Homo sapiens: one gene and its partner. The protein of the gene in region 2 purifies or fractionates together with the protein of the main gene of each other region. This does not show direct contact. Each region holds a gene or a part of one and is shown on either strand. Other genes may lie near its edges.

Region 1 (3,815 bases), on a different chromosome or scaffold from region 2:
GGGGCTGCCCTGGTGGCCAAGGCAGGTGGAGCTAGCGGTCGAGGTTTCTGGACTGAGGCCCCTCCCCCAGTGCGGTCATCCCACCCAGAACTTCGCTCTGCCCCTGCCCATTCTAGGACAGCCGGTGAGTCAGTTCCTCTGAGGGAGTAGGGGGAGCCCACTCCTTTCTGCCTGGAAGTGGAATTCAGGAATGTGGGGAGCTGGTCTGAGAAGGGGCTGGGCTTTGCCGCCAAGCCGGGTTGCCCCAGCCCTGCCCCTCCAGGCCCAGGTCCTCTGCGCTGCTGTGGGATTTCCTCTTTGCCAGAACACTCTGTTCTCTGCACAACCGGAACCCCTCCCTGCCCCACTCACAGGTGGGCCAAACCGAGGCTTCTGGGCGCCGCGGATACACATTCTAGATATGTATGTGTGTATATATATATGTATATATATATTTATATATAGCTCGTATATAGAATATATCTGTATATATGGTAGATGTGTGCGTGATACTCTAGATGGTGATGTGGAGACCTGCATGCTGGCCGGGCTGATAGAAACGGGGCTGGTTTATTCCCTAAGGGACTCCTAGACCTGTCCCGCTTCCTGCCAGCCGCTCAGCTAGGTCTCTCTCTAACAGTGAGTAGAAAAGCTAAGAAGAGTGGGCCCCGCTCTGCCCGCCGCGCTGGGGTCAGCATCCAGGCAGCCAGCGCCGCCTCCCAGCAGCTCCAGGGGGGGACCCTGGCCGCCACAGAGGCCTCCTTCGGGGAAGTTGAGTCAGGGATTCCTCCAGCTTCCTTGGCACCCAGAAATGGAGCGTCAAGGAGGGTCTTCAGAACTCGGCCTTCTGCTCGAGGTGCTGCCAGGGAGGGGGGTGGAGTTAGGGGTCCTACGGCCCCGAAGAGGGCAGTGTGGCCGGTGGGCTGTGGACGAGATAGGAAGGGAAGGACAAACGTTACCAGAGGCAGGGAAGGACCCTCGGGGGAAAGGGGGAGGACCTGGGGCTGGCGAGGCTCACTTCCTGCCAAGAGATCCGGCACAGTGCAGTTGAAAGCAACCGTGAGACCCAAGTTCTAGTCTCCGTCCTGCTACGAACGTGCTGTGTGATCTCAGGCAAGTCTACTGGCCCATGGGAGCTCCGGATCTTTTTCTCTAAAATGTGAATAATGTCTGTCTTGTGACATAAACTGGGTAAAAAAGTGTTTCACAAACTGCAAAGCACGATACCAATGTGAGCTCTTTTTCCATTAATTCTGAAACGTGGCGCATTCTGTCCGGCCTGTCTCGTCCCTCCTCGGGCCACCCATCTGTATTCTCGTATTCTCGGTACACACAGCGCCCCCTGCAGTCATTGCGCCCCCCCCCCACCCCCCACCCACGCAAAGGCGCACACCCTGGAGCAGAGACGGCTCAATAAACAGTGGCGCCTGGCCCACCCCTGCTTCCCTGATAAGAGAAGTTGGGCGAGGGCCTTCTAGGACTCTACTCTGTAACTCCATCCTACCCTCGAGCCCATGGGGACCCTGGCAGCAGGGAGGCTCTGCAGGCTCAGGCCAGGGACACTAGGGGTGGGCTAGAGGGTGTAAAGGGATGAGGGGACCACCCCACCACTTGACAGCTGGGAGTAACCCCCATGGGGTGCCAGTTTCCACGGTAGCCCATCTCCATTCAGTCCACAAGGAGCAGAAGTGGGCGGAGGAGGAGACTTCGGCCGTTTCAAAATGTTTGGGGTTTGGAGAGATCTTAGTCCCTAGGGCAGGGTGGGGAGGGCAGGACGGGCAGCGTGCTGGGGAACTTGGGCCATGTGTTTCTGATTCACTGGGGCTCGCGCCCAGCCAGCTCTCTTTCCAGTCTCTCTTGGCCCTTGTAAAAAAGCCCTTTTCTCTGGAAGCAGGAAGTCTTGTGTCCTGGCTGTAAACAAACTCATCTTTGGCAGCAGAGCCTGCGTGGGGAGAGGGGTGGGAGGGCAGGCAAGCCCCCTCCCCTCCTCTTCCCCTGTCTTTTCCCTGGACCCTCTGGGTGACAGCTGGTGGGGGGTGAGGGGGCAACCACTGCTCTCCACGCCCTGCCAGTGCCCTCCTCTGGTGGGCCAACATCTGCTTGTTTCCCATTGACTCCCAGGTCTCAGGCAGGCCAGGGCCCAGCTGTGCACATCTGGAGTTGGCTTGGCTCCAGCCAGCAGTTCCCGAGGACTCCACTCTCTTGGGGTGGTGCTGACGGGAGAGGGGGGAGGGGAGCAGGAGCCAGCCCGGGGCCAGTGTGGTCAGCAGCAGGAAGGGCAGGAGGCCTGGCGTCCCCAGCTGCCCTCAGGGGACCTCCTCCAGGAGCTGTGCCTGTGAACAGAAGGGCCGGCAGTCTTGGGGGCCCGTGCAGAGCCCGGCGGGAGACGCCGCCTTTTCCATGGGAAACTGCTGGGAATGTTTCTCTACCACGGGAATGTTTCTCTACCACGCGTGTCCCGGGCTGCTGGCTGACCTCTGCTTCCCATTCCCGCCTCCGCTCCTCTCCTCCTTCCTACTCCAGCCCTGCCTCCGCCTCTCCATTCAGCTCCCAGAGTCAGCCTCCCCTTGGGGGCCCAGGGAGGCCGAGTGTTCCCAACCGCCACATCTGGGGGCTAGCCCTCCCCTCACGCTCCGAGTCAGCAGGAGTCACAGAGGGCGGCCACCCTCCTTGAGCCACCTCCTGGGCCCAGAACTGGAAGCCCAGCCTCCAGGTCAGCCTGGAAGTAAACATGCCCCTGCTCGTGTGCGTGTGAGCGACACCCATGTAGCTTCCTCGTGGGCTGGGGTGTGTGTGTGTGTGTATGTGTCCTCGTGATCCTCCGGGCTCTAGCCCTATTGAGGCAGAGGGCATTTAGCAGCACTGGTCGGCATGAGATGAAAAAACAGCCCCTTGTGATTGGCACCCAGGGAGGAAGTGGCTGGGCTGACCTGGGCTGCCTCCGAGCCTGATGATCGGACCTTACCGCCAGGAGCCTCTGGCGCCTCTCTGCCTGGGCAGCTGTGGCTTTGGGTGCTCTGAGCTCTCCCTGGCTCTAGGGAAGGGGAAGGCTCTTTGGGAGGATTTTTGCTCAGGGCTCATGGCTCTGAGCAGCCTGAAGTCACAGGGGAGCCATCTTGAAGGCCTTTCCTATTATGCCTGTTCTTACATGTCAGACCCCAGGGTTGGCCTGCCTCAAGTGTGCCTGCCCAGGTGATCAGCCCCAGGGCCTCAGGAGATATGGGAGACCTCGGGGACAGCAGAGGACATGGCGGGGAGGCTGCCCAGCCCACCCTCGCCCGCCTCCTCACGTGGTGGCGTTGGGGACCTGCTGCACCCAGCCCACTTCCTTGTAGGCAGCGGTCACGTGGCTGTAGATGAGGCCACGCAGCTTGGCCCAGGCTCTCTGCGTCTCAGGTGGGAAGTCACTGGCAAATTCCTCGGCGACCACCTCCAGAATGACCCCAGAGAGGATCTGGGGGCAAAGGGAGGAAGGGGGAGTGAACGCCCGGGCGCCCTGCGTCCTGCAACCCCCAGGCCCCTCCGCCCCACGTGTGGCCGAGAGGATCATTCCTAACGCAACAGTCTGGCAGCTTTGGGAACCCCGTGCTCTCAGGACAAGGGTTGCCCTGGACCCAGCCCCTCCATCCTGCTGCCGGGCACTGCCCCTCCCTCTCGCAGCCACTCCGGGGATCACCTCTGTTGCTCCAGAGAGCCGTCGCAGAGCCTGCGAGCTGCAGATGGCCATGACGCGTGGGCGGTGGGGGCTCTGCAGCAGATGGGGGCGCATACCTTGAAGTACACCGGTTCCACCTTGTGCTTGAGGGCGTGGGCTTTCCCCACAAGGGCGAGCACAG
Region 2 (4,551 bases):
AAAAAGTGGAATCAAAAGGCTGTGTGAGATGGCATGTAGAGCATCTTGACAAACAAACATCTGTTTTACCCACAGATGGAACATATATGCCTTTTTAAGAAATCTGATCTTATTTCTATCCTCATACATAAAATGTAATTGAGAGAAAACAATAAATAAATAATTTACCTAATTATGAAAATAACTTCACCAAAAATAAAGGTTAACTATATATGAAAAAATAAATTCTAGGCTCCTGGAAGAAGTTGACACAGATCCCCCCTTGAACAAGTCCTCTTTAACTCAGGCCTCAAAGAATCCTACAGATAGAGTTCTAACAAATATGACCTTATTCACACACACACACACACACACACACACACATACACACAGAGAGAATAATAAGCAACTACGTGTCAGATTGAGCAGAAACAACAAAGTAAACCAGATCCACAAAACTTTAGAGATAAAATTTATATATATATATATAAAAAACACAAAATATGTTTAATATGTTTAAAGAAACAAAAGAAGGGATTTAAACACATGAGTAAGGAGGAAGAGATTAAAAAATGACAAGCCATATTTTTAGAAAGATTGAAAAAGACTTTCTAAAAATAAAAATAATAATAATTTAAATTTAAAAATAAACACAGGGAGTAACCAACTGATTAGATCCAGCTGAAGAGAAAATTTGTATATTGCAAGATAGAGATAAAGAAATAACACAAAATTATCAGCATGTTAAGGACATGGGAAAATATAAGAGATATGGAGAAAAGGTGAAAAGGGTGGCATATACATAATTGGAATTCCATAAAGATCGAAAAGAGAGAATGTTGAAAAGGCAATATTCACAAAGATGATGAGCTTTCTAGAACTGATGAAGGAATCTTGAGGATGGATGAAGAATCCTCATGCATCTTCAATCCTCATGAAATCTGCAGATTTATGAAGCTTAGAAAATCCCAAATAGGATTAAAAACACAAAAATGGAAACCTATACTTAGACACATTGCAATAAAATTGCAGTTCACCAAAGACTAAGGAAAAAAGAGCCAGAGAGGAAAGATGGACTACCTATGAAGGATGGAATTTAGACGGACAAAAGACTTCTCAACAGCGATAACAGACAGCAGAAGATTAAAAGTTCCAAATTGCTAAGAAAATATATGTCATCCTATAATTATATACTCAACAGAACTAAATTTCAAGGACCAGAGCAAGAATTAGGACATTTTCAGGTAAACTACCACTCAGAACATTTACATCCAAAATCCCCACTAAAGAAACTTCTAAAGGATATAACTGAAGTAGGAAAAGGACACTAGGGTAATGTCTGCGATGCAGGAAGATTGAATCAGCCCCCGCGGATGGGACTCTGATGCACACACAACACGTCCAACACCAGGCTCATGTGTCTTGGGAAGAACACCTGAACCATGAAAACATCCTCCCCTTAAGACCAGGACCGAGAAAGTCGGGTAATGGGCAGCATGTGCCTCTTCCTCCTTTGTCCGTGTTACTCAATAGATAGTCATCATTTTCTTTAAAAATGGTATGACAGATTAAATGAAAAAATGATTTTTAGAAAGGTTTATAAAGTTTTCAATGGAATACATTTCTCTAGCTGTAAAAGCATTTCCTGCCTTGACTTAACCACAAGACAGGATGGGTTGATGAAGCAGAGGCCCTCTTCTTTGTAGTGACGCAGAGGCAGTACAGGCTTGTGGTTAAGAGCGTGGGCTCTGGAGACAATTCGAATGCCTCTCAACAGCACTCTGGGCCCATTGGTGTTTCTTCACCTCTCTAAGTTCCAGTTTTCACATGTGTAAGTTAGTACCCAGTTTCTAAGATTGTTGTGAGGGTTAAATGAAACGACATATGAAGCAAAGTTCCTAGCACATGGGAGGCATTCACTGTACGTTAGCTGGTAATATTGTTTTAATGACATTGGTAGTCTGCACCAATCTTTGTGCTGTCCCCTACATTTTCTGAAAAGAAATCATCTTTAGTCATCTAGCCACAGCATAGCAGAAAAGCTGGAGGTGCTCAGAGTGTAATTTATATGGTAACACTTCACGTATAATACTAGGCTCTGCAGATAATAGTTGTTCATTTAATTTGGGTGGATCTGAGATTTTAGTGGAATACTGTATATAATTCCTATTACAGTATTCACATATCTTTTCAGATATTATTTTGCCTCCTTTAATCAAATTTTGAGAAAATTGTTTTTAGAACAAGCACTGAGAAATTTTGGTGAGTTTTTAATTTTTTAATTTTTACCAGATGTCAAAAAAGACAATCTACAGTATATTAAAGTATATCTATTCTTGAACAGATCTAAAAATAGTACAAATCATTGATGACGATGACCAAAAGTACAATATTTTCCTACAGTGTTATAGAAAATGCTTGCTTTCATCTATCAGTTTAATAGTTACTTATTAAGACTCTACTATATATTTCAGGCACTGTGGTAGTCACTTATTAACTAATAATTATTACTTGACATTTATTAATACTGGAAATATTCTTTCCTAATATCACATTTTTTTCTGATGGATATAAAAAGTATTTACTGGACCATTGTACAGATGAGGGATTGGTGCCAGATAGCTCTAAAGCCAGGGGCTGGTAGGCTTCTTCCTAATACTGAATGAAGTTTGCCAAAGCACTGTTTCCTGAAAAGAAAATAAAGTATGAACAACCCCCTTTTTCTATATCTATGGTTTTGCCTAATTAGTTCTAAATTTAAAGTTTGGCCCTTTACCACTGCTCAAAGTAGAGGAAACCATGTGTCTTCCTCATTTCTTTCTCTCTTATCATGCTTTGCATTACCACATTTATACAGCCTAAACCAGGAAGAATGTTGCGAACATCACTGACAATTATGCCAAAGCATGTTATCTACTTTAAAATATTATTTTATTTTTTAATCTTATACTTACCCATATTTCTTCCGGTGATGTGTTTGTTGACTGAGGAGCTTGATAAATCTGTGCCTGCATCAAGTCAAGAAGAGAAACCAACACTGCTGAGGGGACAGGAAATTGCACTCATATTTCAGCACAAACCAATGAGGAAGCAGCATCTCAATGAGAAGGGTGTGCGTTATCCAAGTTTGAACAAAAAAAGTCTCTTAAATACTTTTAAAGATGTTTTTATTTATTGTTTACTGTACTGTAATTTTTATAACTCACTTGTCTCATTGCATCTTAATTACAAGTATGTACTGATATTATATTATATGCCCTTTACTTAATGGAATATATGTTAAATATTTTATTTATTTCTTTGTTCATTCATTCATTCATTCATTCATTCACTCATCATGCCAGCAGTGTGCGGGGAGATGTATACGAACTGGCTATCAACCAAAAGCAGCTTTTTTTACCTAGTAAAGGAGAAAGACATGTTTAATAATGATTGTAATGCAATGGCAAAATGAAGAAGTACTTCAAGAGGGGTACAGATAAAATAGAATGAACCATTTGGATGTGTGAGATAGGGGAGGATATTGTAGGTAGATTCAGGGTGATAAAGTTCCTGGGACAAAAACAGAAAAGGGAGAATTGAGGCTGAGGGGTTTAATGATGGATATTGTGCTGCTTAAGGCAGGGGTTAAGGTAGCCAACCTCATACCGTCTTTCTTTTCTTTTTTTTTTTGAGAGACTAATGGGATTAGATATATAGTATTTGATTGTAGAACTATTTTCTCCTTTGATTCTCTCCTCTTGGAAACAGAGATGGCTAAAAACCAGTTGAATTAACTAGCTGAGACAAATAATTTTATGAAACTTGAAAATTTTATTTAAGACTTACATTGTTATTATAAAAACTCTTGTACTTTAGCAAGTTAAAGTTAATGCCAAATCTATAAGTGGTTTAATATGAAGTGAAATTAGCTCCTATAACTTTCTTACTATTGATATATAAAAAAGTCAGAAATATCACTTTTGAATCTTGCCCTCATAAACTTTTATTAGAAATGAAGGGAAAATATTATTTGAAAGAACAGAATTTATTTGGGATGAAAACATTTGACTTAATTTTAAAGATGTAATCAGGACATTTTGAATCTGTGTTTGTTAAAGGACATTAAGGGTTGTTGCTGGTGTTTTTTTTTTGTTGTTTTTTTCTCCCTACCCAGAGATAGAAAAGATTAGCCTGTATATAAGCAAGGCTTTCCATATTGAAGTTGATCAGGGTATATCAGGAATGTAAAGATTTTCAATACTTCCGTTGTAGGTCTTTCTTTGAGAATAATAAAACTAATACCTTACATTTATAAAGCACAGGATAGTTTATAAAGTAATTTAGCATATAGTAAATTATAAATCAATATATTGTTACTGAAATAATAAAAATTAAGTATAAAGTAAAAAATTAACAATAAATGTCTTGAAGTTTTACAAAAATGAAAAGTAACGATTTCAGTTTACTTGTGACTGTAATTCAAAGTTCTCATTTTTGCTTGGTTTCGTACATCTGCTTATCTGTGGTTTCTATACATGATATATCTTTTTTTAAGTTCGGGGTACAAGTGCATTGTTACGTAGGTATTTC

What was found.
Region 1: the proteins of GPR65 (region 2) and CYGB purify together in Homo sapiens (affinity purification with mass spectrometry; one large-scale study listed by BioGRID and IntAct). This does not show direct contact.

What each region holds. Positions count from the first base shown.
Region 1 is NC_000017.11:76,527,710-76,531,524, forward strand, and holds part of CYGB (cytoglobin), read right to left. Parts: coding exon 3,751-3,815; intron 3,434-3,750; coding exon 3,270-3,433; intron 2,313-3,269; coding exon of another isoform or gene 2,243-2,312; exon of another isoform or gene 909-2,242; intron 903-908; coding exon 869-902; 3' UTR 1-868. UniProt on the Homo sapiens protein: Probable multifunctional globin with a hexacoordinated heme iron required for the catalysis of various reactions depending on redox condition of the cell as well as oxygen availability.
Region 2 is NC_000014.9:88,003,605-88,008,155, reverse strand, and holds the start of GPR65 (G-protein coupled receptor 65), read right to left. Parts: upstream 3,022-4,551; 5' UTR 2,934-3,021; intron 1-2,933. UniProt on the Homo sapiens protein: Proton-sensing G-protein coupled receptor activated by extracellular pH, which is required to monitor pH changes and generate adaptive reactions. Activated by an optimal pH of 7.4.